2 separate regions of the Homo sapiens genome follow, and region 1 is linked to region 2. Evidence: fine-mapped expression QTL. A gene starts in region 2. The other region holds a variant in brackets. All regions are shown on one strand. Distances are between the middles of the regions. Region 1 overlaps NRF1 (nuclear respiratory factor 1). Region 2 holds the start of NRF1 (nuclear respiratory factor 1).

Region 1 (5,372 bases), 140 kb before region 2:
AGAGGACCTTTGAGGGCTCAAATGCGGTAAACAGCTCATTCTGCACTAGTGCTCTGTCCAGATGGTGCCTCATCACCTTGGACTGCAGCGGTTGGTTTATGTAAAGGTCTCCTCCTCACTCCTTGTTTCTCACAGGCAACTACCATGCTTCATTCACCTGGCACATGACAAGCATTCACGTAGTTAAGTGCAACTGACCGTCAGGTCAGGTCTGGTCTACAGATGGGTTTTATTTTGCTTGCAGAGTATGTAAATTTTTTATTTGTTGCGATCACATCTCGTACAAAAATCTGGATTCCCCAGATTCTCTGGACAATTTTGAAGTTGGGGCATTAGGGTCCATCTTCCTGCATGGTGACAATCAGCACCTAGGACAGGCTGCCCCGTTTAGATGGATGCTGTCCACTGTGCCTGTCCCCATCACTCCCTCCTCTCACATGGGAATTGCCTCAGCTTCCTTCATTGATTTGACCTCCCTGGTCTCTATAGACAGCGGAGTTAGCAGCTCCTGTTGGTGACTTAGGCAGGAATGGAAGAGGTCTCCATCGGCCCCACCAAAACCAGTTGTCAATACATGCCTGTGGCAAAGGCAGCATCTGAGGCTTGCCAGGCAAACAGCAGCTAGAAGACGCCTCTGGAGAGACCCTTGGTCAGCAGGTATTCTAAACAACCCAGCTATTTCATGGTAGTCAATAGCACGGATGTGTGGTTGATTTGGCTGCACTCAATCCTTTTTCTAGTCCAGTCTCTGGTGAAAAATAGGCGAGGGTATGCCATTTGTGCAAGAAGGGGGAAAGGTAGGCACTTGGCTTCACTGAACCACCATCAGGCATCAAGGAAAAGGCTTCTTGGCCTTCCCATCCAAGCAAGCATTCTAATCATGGTCACCAGGAAAGTGGCCAAGACACCCAACAATATAAAGAAAGGGTGGTGGGGGTGACAGCAGGTCATTCCAGGCTGAGGCCAGGGCATGCAGAAGCATGGAGGTGCAGGCTACTGGGGTCTATGAAGGGCCTAAGGATGGGGCAGGAGGAACAGCTGGAGCGATGGCATATGCCATGTTAAGAGAGTAAGCTGTGTGAGAAACCAGGGAGTGAGGATGCAGGGGAACAAGTCATGGCTTGAGGCTTCTGCTTGGAGAAAGAAAGACAATTCACTTTAATAGTAATTCCCAAGATGGAGAGGCACCATCACTCACCCTCATTTTTTATTTTTATTTTTTTTTTGAGATGGAGTCTCGCTCTGTTGCCCAGGTTGGAGTGCAGTGGTGTGATCTCAGCTCACTGCAACTTCCGCCTCCTGGGTTCAAGCGATTCTCCTGCCTCAGCCTCCTGAATAGCTGGGATTACAGGCGCCCGCCACCATGCCCAGCTAATTTTTCTATTTTTAGTAGAGACAAGGTTTCACCATGTTGGCCAGGCTGGTCTGGAACTCCTGACCTCAAGTGATCCACTCACCTTGGCCTCCCAAAGTGCTGGGATTACAGGCGGGAGCCACTGTGCCCGGCCTAGGATTTTTTAAATACGATTTTTTCCCCAGAACGTCAGTATAAGAAAACACGTTATATATGAAATGTATGAAATGGAGCAGGTCTGGTGATGGGGCTCGCAGGGGGCTCTGGGCAATCTTCAGTGTCTTCTTTACGGAGGTCCCCAGCGTCGGAGTGGCACAGGTCGGAGACCGCTGATCTCGAGTAGGACTGCATTTTAAACGCAGAACGAGCTGCCCCAAGATAGAGTTCCTTTTGCCTAAGAAGCCAAGAGCTCCTATAGAGATGAACAATTCCACTTCCTGTTGCCACATTTTTAACTATTTATTGAATGAGGCAGTCAAAGACAGAATGGGAAACAACACAGAATCCATGCTCTGCTACTGGGGTTTTGCTTTTTTCTTCGTCTTGGCAACTTCTCAAACTATTTGGAGGTTATTTCACCACAAAGGAACATGGACTTTAAAGTCCCTGGACAACTTCACAATGACGATAAAAAATAATAATTAAAAAAATAACAAATTGTAGAACTAGGACTATTTATATGTAAATTTCCCTCCCCTCCCCCCATTACGTACAGAAAAGAACATATAAAGAACATTAGATAGTTTTATATAAAACAAGCAAATACAAGAATCTGAAACTTCTCTCAAAGGTTGAGCAAGACGTGGAGAATCTTTTAATGTCGCATTAAAAAAACACATTAAATACACCATCACACACATGGGGAGAGCTGGGAGGAGGGAGGAGGAGCTGTCCCTGTACTCAAGGTTCAGAGATTTGGCCTGTTGAAAAGTCAGGTGAATTCAGCTACTGGAGACTCAGGGCTTGCAGCTGAGAAAGACAGAGTTAACGGTTACCAAGAACACCCAGATAGTC[A/G]ACACCTCTGAGGAGGCAAGCTGCTCCCGGCCTGGGCCACGAGGTTGCATCAAGGAACATGGGCCTCCAGGAGTCCCTTCTGAAGCAGGGCCTGATCCAGGAACACAGCAAACACCCTCAGCTGTTTTCTATGGCCAGGTGTCCCTTCTTCCCTTCCGCGTACTGACCGGGCCCAACCAAGCTTAGCTTCCAAGATCACACAAGATCAGGGGCGTTCAGGGTGCTGTGGCCACAGACCAGATGTCTCTTCTTGTTCATTCCAGCGCCTCCTCTGTGAAGCTACAGACAGTAGAGAAAATTGCTCCCACGGGTGTATCCTGGTCTAGGACGATTTTTCTTTCCTTCCTTTCCCTTCCACTGCCCCCGCCCCCTTCCCATCCTCTCCCCCACCATGCACGCACACACACAAGCACACTTACACGCACGCACTCCTCAAACCCCTAATACTTCGGTTACCTTCAGTTCATATATACGAGCAATTCAGGACTGACCTTAAAACCAGAGCAACATTTTAATAGTCATGAGATCAAGGATTCCTGGGAAGGAGAGGAGATGGGAGGCTGAGGCCCGGGAGCTTTCAAGACATTCATCTGCCTGTGGCAAGGTCAGCACCTGGGCCAGCCCGAGGAGCATCTCAGCTGGCAGACCACGCAGTCCCTGGACCTTGCAAGCACATCTCTGACCCACCCCATGCTGGAGCCTCTTTCCTCAGGTGAGTCCAGCAGGGAGAGTTCTGTGTGGCCACTGGGAGGCAGCTTTGGTGAAGGGCATGGTCACCTCCGCCTGAGTTTGTCAGTAGCTCAACGCATGACCCTGGTATGAACAAAAACTGGGTGACTGTGTCTGGCCACGTACCCTACCACCCACTAAACTGGGTGAATTATTGTTTCCACAGCGCACCTTGATTTCATACAGATAATTCCATGCGGGTTTCATACATATATATATATATATATGTATATATATACTTTATATATATGTAAATGTGTATGTCCATATGTACACATATACATATATTCACACTCACACATACACACACATAAGTATACACACACATTTCCGCAGAAAGAAGTCCTGCCACAATTTGGCTTTTTTGGGACAGTGAAATTGACAATGCAGTTTCTTCACCAATCCCAGAAAATCAAGAGTGGTGCTTTAAAAAATGCAATTCCAAAATCCGCTTTCTTCCTTTTAAAAAAAAAAAGGTTAACAAAACTTTCCTTCCAAAGTCGAGAGACTTAATTCCATTTGATTGCACCTCTGCAAACGTGTAAAAAATTTTGAAGTAGACTAGAAAACGATGCCATAATATGGCTGTATGTCACTGTTCCAATGTCACCACCTCCACAGCTTGGCCGTCCATGGTGACTGCGCTGTCTGATATCCTGGTGGTCACAGGGGCCATGGCCACCTGCACTGGTCCGTTGCCCTGGGCGAGGCTGGTCACCACAGTCTGGTACATGCTCACAGGGATCTGGACCAGGCCTGGAGAGACAAAGAGAAGACCGTTGGTGGGGCTCAGGCTCAAGTTCCCAGATGCTGGCTGGACGGGGGCACCCAAGTCTTGCCTTTGAGGTATCGTGGTCACCAGCCTCAGGTGATCACATACCCATGGCCCAGGCACAAAGACATCTCTTTCCCACCCCATTAAAATTTTTTTCATTAATTTTTAAGATTTATAATTGATATATAGTAACTGTTCATGTTTATGGGGTACAATGTGATGTTTCAATGCATGTATACACTGTAGAATGATCAAATCAAGAAAATTACCATATTAATCTCTTTAAAGATTTATCATTCATTGTGGTGACAACATTCAAAATCTAGCTATCTTGAAACACAGACTACATTGTTATTCGCTACAGTCACCCTACTGTGTAACTGAACACCAGAACTTATTCTTCCTTTGCACCTGCTGGCCAACCTCTCCTGCCCCCCTCCCCAACCCTTCCCCAGACTCTGGTAACTATTATTCTACTCTCTACTTCTAGGAAATCAACTTTTTTCCATTTTAACTTTTTTTTTTTTTTTTTTTAAGAGACAGGGTCTGGCTCTGTAGCCTAGGCTGGAGTGCAGTGGCGTGACCACAGCTCACTGCAACCTCGAACTCCTGGATTCAAGTGATCCTCTCACCTCGGTCTCCTGAGTAGCTGGAACCACAGGCGTGTGCCACCATGCCTGGCTAATATAATTTTTTTTTTTTTTGAGATGGAGTCTTGCTGTGTTGCCCAGGCTGGTCTTGAACTCGTGGCCTCAAGTGATCCTCCCACCTTGGCCTCCTGAATAGCTGGGATTACAGGCGTGAACCACCAACCCTGACCATTTTGATTTTTTTAAAACAGACTATCAGAAAAGAAAAGTTTAGAGAAATTGTGGAAACATGCCTTAGGGTAGGGCCTTCCCAGCTTGCCGTGAGAGGGCCCTGCCTGCCTCCGCATCTAGGAAGCACAGGCCCGTCAGGTGTGAATGTCCCCGGCCTGTCTTCTCCCTCTCAGAACAGGCCACCATTATTTTTCTTTGATATTTGGCTACACTGCCTTCTTCAACCCTCTTTCTGCCTATGCTTAAGTCTCTCTCAGCTTGAAAAGAAAAATCTTGTCCCTCTCCTATCCTGTCTTCTGGCCACTGCTCCGTCTATGTGCCTTCCTTCATAGTCAAGCTTATTTTATTTATTTATTTATTTTTAAAGCCTAGGTCACTTGTTTCCTGATTTCTAGATTTCACACACCAGTAAAATGTAAAAACACATTTTGGGGTCAACTTAAAAAAAAAAGACCCCAGCTACTCCCTAATATCACTATTATTTCAGAGTAGAAAGGATGGCTTAAAGGAAGAAGCACATAACCTCCATAAAGGTAGTCCTGCCTAAAAAGGGAAAGCTGATAATACATTAAAAAAAAGGATTCCCAGTAAGGCAGTAACTAACATATACATCAATCTCTCTTCCTTCTGAAACTAGAATTACAGTGAATGAGGAAAAAAGGATATAACCGAGGGATGT
Region 2 (5,372 bases):
TTGAGGCTGTGTGAGGAAATTAAAGGACTTCAAATAAGGATGGGCCAAAAGATTAAGTAGAGTTTTTGTTTTTGTTTTTTTAGATGAAGTCTCGCTCTTGTCCCCCGGGCTGGAGTGCAATGGCGCGATCTCCATCTCGGCTCACTGCAACTTCTGCCTCCCAGGTTCAAGCGATTCTCTTGCCTCGGCAGCCCCCGCCCCCGCCCCTCCCAGCAGCTGGGATTACTGGCGCCTGCCACCACGCCCAGCTAATTTTTGTATTTTTAACAGAGATGGGCTTTCACCATGTTGGCCAGGCTGGTCTCGAACTCCTGACCTCAGGTGATCCACCCCGCCTCGGCCTCCCAAAGTGCTGGGATTACAGGTGTGAGCCACCGCACCCGGCCGTAAAGAGTTTTCTTAATCTGATTATTGTTTTTTTTGGTCATGGGCCCTGTTGAAAGCCACTAAGTCCTATCAAAAGAAAAAAAAACCCCTTGACACAAAAAAATTCTGCCCACAATTTAGGATCCAAGTTAAGAATAAATATTCTACATTGCATGTGATAATTATGTCTGCTTTCGGACTCATAAAATAAGGAAATTACACTCAGATGCACGGAGAGAACTAGTCATATTTTCACTGTCTTACGGGGTAACCTGTCAAGAACTGTCAAATACAATTTTAGGGAGTCGGGATACTAATGAATCAAACACACACACACACACAAACAGCATCTCCAAGACTCCAGCACCCCCCTTTCCCAATTACTTACTGGTCAAGCCCAAAGGAAAAATAATTTTTTAAAAGGCTAGGCTGAGATGGAATGGGAAAAAGGATCACTGTGAGCACAGATGATGTCCCGGGACAAAAGCTCTGCCCAACACTGCCCAAGCTGACAGGCTCACTCACACTACCTTTCTCCTTATGCGTCTCTCAATACGCAGTCTCTGAACACTTAAAAAAATGTGAATTTTGCTCTGACCACATAAAGAAATCAGCACGATTGACACCAGCTCTAAAATAAGCAATTAATATATTCTAATCTAATGCTTAAGAAGAATGGAGAGCAGGCAACAGCTCCTCCAACTGGTTGGAGCAGATATCACTGGAAGCCCCCCAAGTATTAAGATTTTTAAACAACTTCAAGTTCTGGTGGGCACAGCCAAATACACTGCAGAAACTTTGGGACCAGCAGCCACGACACAACAGGTGAGAGAGGCAGCAGACATCATTGCACGATGGAGTGCACAACATTCAATGACAAACCCGAAAAGGTCTGGGGATATGGGAAAATACCATGCACACGGCCATCTCAGAGCCCCTGTCTTTCCAGTGGCAAAAGGTTCTGTTCCTTCGGAGGGGCGTGCCACTCCCCCTCTCCCTCACCCAGGGGACCACCACCCCAGGCACAGGAAGAACCGCGGCCCCTCCGCGGGCACATCTCAGCTGGGGAAGAAAACACAATGTCGCTCCTTATTTCTGCGTACAAAAGGACTTTGCGCCCTCCTCCTCGAACTGCCGCCCCGGCCACCTCCTAACTTGCAAGAAGGTGGGCAACGCGCCATATTCCAGCGTCCCCCAGTCTACCTGGGTAACAAGCCCACGCCACCCCGGCAGGAGGGAAGCTTCGGAGGTCGCCCAAAGAGCCAGCCTCCTCTCCCGCAGGAGACAGCGGCTCCCGCGCCCCAGCCCGGCCCCACCGCGCCGCCCGCCCGCCCGCCCGCGTACGAGAGCCGGGAAGGGCCGAGGGGGCGAGCCGAGAGCCGCGGCTCCGGTCCCGCGCAGCCCGCCCACCTCCCGCTCCCGGGCCCGGCGCACTCTCCCGCGCCTCCCGCTCCCGAGCTGCGGGAAGGCCGGGCCCCGGGTTCCACGGCGGGGAGAAGGCCGCGGCCCCGAGAGCCCCAGGCGGCGGAGGAGGCCGGAACCCTGGGGCTCTCGGGAGGGCAGCGCCTCCCTCCCGAGCCCGCCAGGACGCCTGGGGCCTAGTGCGGCCTGCGCATCCTCGGGGTGGCGGTTTGGCTGGGCCGGGCCGGGGCCCCCCGCCCGAGGCGGGCCGAATCCGGCGGGGGCCCAGGCCCAGAGCCGGGGGCGGCAGGGTGCCGGCTGCGGGGCGGGCCGGCCGGCCGGCGGGCGGGCGGCGTGTTGCGGCTGCGCCGGGGCTGAAATAGCTGGAGATTGCGCGGTAGGGCACTCACCTCAGAGCGGCTGCGCTACCGTGGGCCTGCGCCGTGGAGACTGCGACCGCGCCGGCTCCTCGCAGCCTCCTGCCACCAGCGGCAATGGCGAGCGCTGCCGCTTCTGCCGCCGCCGCCGCCGCCGAGGAGGGGGAGGGGAGGGAGAGGGCACGCACGCGACGCACGGCCCGGCTTCCCCGCCCGGCCGCCGCCATGATGAGGAGGTCGGCGCGGCTGTGCTGCGGGCAGGCAGCGGAGAGGGCTCGCGGCGAGGGCTCCAGCTTACCCCGCCGCCGCGTCGCGTGCACGGAGCGCTTCAGAGGTTTGGAGGGGGCCGGAACCTCAAAAGCAACTGGATGAGCACAACGCGGACGCCCCGGAGAAGCGGCGCAAGCGGGCCCAAAATGGTTGCTGATCAGACGAGTGGCATCTCTCGCCCCCCTACCGCGGGAATTGGGACCTCCAGACTGTGCCTGGGGGATCGGCAAGTGGTTCCCCTCTGGTTTTTTCGGCGCTGCCTTCCCGGTGGTATCCTCACTCTCTCTCTTTGAAATGACCTCTGCTTTCCTATCTCTAACTCTTCCCAGATATTTGAAAGCAAGTTTTTGTACAAAGCAACATATGAATGTATTCAGCCATTCGATCGTTCGGCGAACATTTCTAGGTGTCTCGTGCTGTGCCAGATATTGTTCTGAGTGCGCTGAAGATGCACCTGTTAGCAAGACAAAGTCCTGGCTCCCACGGAGCTTATTCGAAGCAATAGGGGCCCCCAAGCAGGTGCCTGAGAAGTAGGGAGGGGTGGACAGTGGGAAAACAACCTAACGGTGGAGACACACGAGGGGTCTTTTTTTACTTTTAGAAACGGGGGTGGGTGGTCACCCTATGTTGCCTAGGCTGGTCTCGAACTCCTGGGCCCAAGCGATCCTCCCGACTCAGCCTCCCAAAGTGCTGGTATTACAGGACACCATGCCCGGCAGAGGGGTCGTTTTTGTTGTTTTTTTAGTGTCGTCAGGAGACTCCCTCCATCAGAATTACTCAGGCTGATTGTTTTGAGTCCTGGGACCCAGTTGGTATCCAGAATCTTGGCTTGTTTGCCTAGGAACCTGCATTTTCACATCCCCATCTCCACACCCCTGGTGATTCTTATGCATATAATAATGTGAAAAGCATTGCATTGAAGAATTGCTAAAGGGTGTCAGAAAACGGATTAACAAAATCAGGAAGCTTTAATTTTCAAGATTCTATTAACCTCAAAATTCAACATATCCAAAAATTGAATGTCTTTTTCTCCAGTGTTTTCTAGGAGAGTGCCAACACTAGCCACCCAAGTGCTCAAGCCAGAAACCTGGAAATGATCCATTACTCTTTCCTCTGTCTCTGGAGTCCCCATGTTAAATTAGATGTGTTTGTTTGTGAGACAGATTCTCACTCTATTACCTAGGCTGGAGGGCAGTGGTGCAATCATTGTTCACTGCAGCCTCGACCTCTCTGGGCTCAAGGATCCTCCCACCTCAGCCTCCCCAGTAGCTGGGACTACAGGTCCCCACCACCACGCCCGGCTAATTTTTGTATTTTTAGTAGAGATGAGGTTTCATCTTGTTGGCCCGGGCTGGTCTCGAACTCCTAGGCTCAAGTGATCTGCCTGCCTTAACCTCCCAAAGTGCTGGGATTACAGCCGTGAGCCACTGCACCCAGCCCCAATTAGATTTTTAAAACTGTTGTTCCCTGTCAGTTCTTACTCTGGTTCAGGCTACTGTCATCTCTCCTAGAGACACTGCGGTAGACTCCTCTTGGTCTCCCTGCCACCGAAATTGCCCTCTCCAAATCCACTACAGCTTGAATGGTCTTTCAAGAAAGAAAATCATGTTTTTTCCCTGTTTAAGACTCTTAAAAAGATCTGATTAACACGTAGGATAAAGTCTAAAATTCTTTGAGGTGGCTACAGGGCCATTGGTGATCTCATCCCTGTTGCCATCTCTGACCTCATCTGCCACAGATATTTCTCAGGCTACACTCAAAACTGGGAAGCTCTCAGGTCATTTAAGCCTGGAAATTGTGCCACCTCACAACTGTTGCAAGGGCTGTTCCCTTTGCCCATAACTTCATTTCTCTCTACACCATCTATGCACTTACTTGAATCCTCACCTGAATAATTCTTACCATTCTTTCAGATCCCAACATTAATACCATCGCCTCCAGGCAGCATTTTTTCATCTCCCAAGATTGGGTGCATTAGACCCTTTGTCATCACACCCAGTACTCCCCACGTTTATTGAGCGCTCACGATGCGTCAGGCCCTAGTGGAAGCCTTTATGCACATTATCTTCTTTCTCATTTAATTATCAAGTAGAGCCCACAAGGTAGGTACTACCTTTTTTTTAACTTTTGAGACAGGGTCTCACTGTATCTCCCAGACTGGAATACAGTGGCGCAAACACAGCTCACTGCAGTCTCATCCTGGGCTCAAGCAATCCTCCCATCTCAGCCTCCTGAGTAGCTGGGACCACAGGCAGATGCCTGTTGCCCAGGCTGGTCTCCAACTCCTGGGCTCAAGCCGTTCTACCTTAGCCTCCTAAAGTGCAGGGATTACAGGTGTGCAACTGTGCCCGGCCTGGGTAGTTACTAATATTATCCCATTTTACAGATGAAGAAACAAGGACATATAGGGGTTACTTGCCCAAACCCAGACAATAAGCTAGATCTGAAAGTCATCAGCCTGACCTCAGAGTTGTACTTTTAACCATTATCAGGGTCTCAGGCCAGTACCCACTGATGAAACACATAAGTAACTTAGTGGGTCATTACCAACATTTCATTAAAGAAATAGAAAATGGCAGAGAACATCAAACTTAGTAAGGCTCTTGTTTCGTGAAACTTGTCAGATTCTCTAATATGATAAATACTAAATCTTACAAACATTGAAAATACAAAATTAAACAAAATATTACCAAGGTTAACACAAAAGTATGAATACTGCAGATCTGATTTATTTTACTATCCTCATCTTTAATGCAGAACCTTCTTAGGATTAAATGACATTTACCATTCTGAGCAAACTGAGGTTACTGCCCCAAACGGACTGGGCTTACCTTTGCAGGAGAACAGGGGAGGCTGTGTTTTGGCTGGAGATTTTTGGCTAAGAGTCAAGACACAGAGATTCTTCTGCTACCACTGTGAACACATCAAGTCCCTTTCACATAGATGCTGTTTCCACAA

The links. PIP is the estimated chance that this variant, and not a neighbour inherited with it, causes the effect.
Region 1: its variant is the best candidate, but not a certain one, in a credible set for the expression of NRF1 in whole blood (TOPMed, PIP 0.51).

Annotation. Positions count from the first base shown.
Region 1 is chr7:129,753,499-129,758,870 of GRCh38, reverse strand. NRF1 (nuclear respiratory factor 1) reads right to left here. Exons shown (of 11, transcript NM_005011.5): 11 at 1,795-3,853. The coding sequence ends at 3,690. It also overlaps the pseudogene RNA5SP244. Among named protein-coding and RNA genes, the nearest start is that of MIR182, 14 kb to the left of the region's middle. The variant A/G (reference allele first, on the strand shown) is at 2,369.
Region 2 is chr7:129,608,630-129,614,001 of GRCh38, reverse strand. It overlaps NRF1 (nuclear respiratory factor 1), which reads right to left and starts at 2,282. Exons shown (of 11, transcript NM_005011.5): 1 at 2,178-2,282. RefSeq lists enhancers at 995-1,134, 2,815-2,864 and a silencer at 1,435-2,424.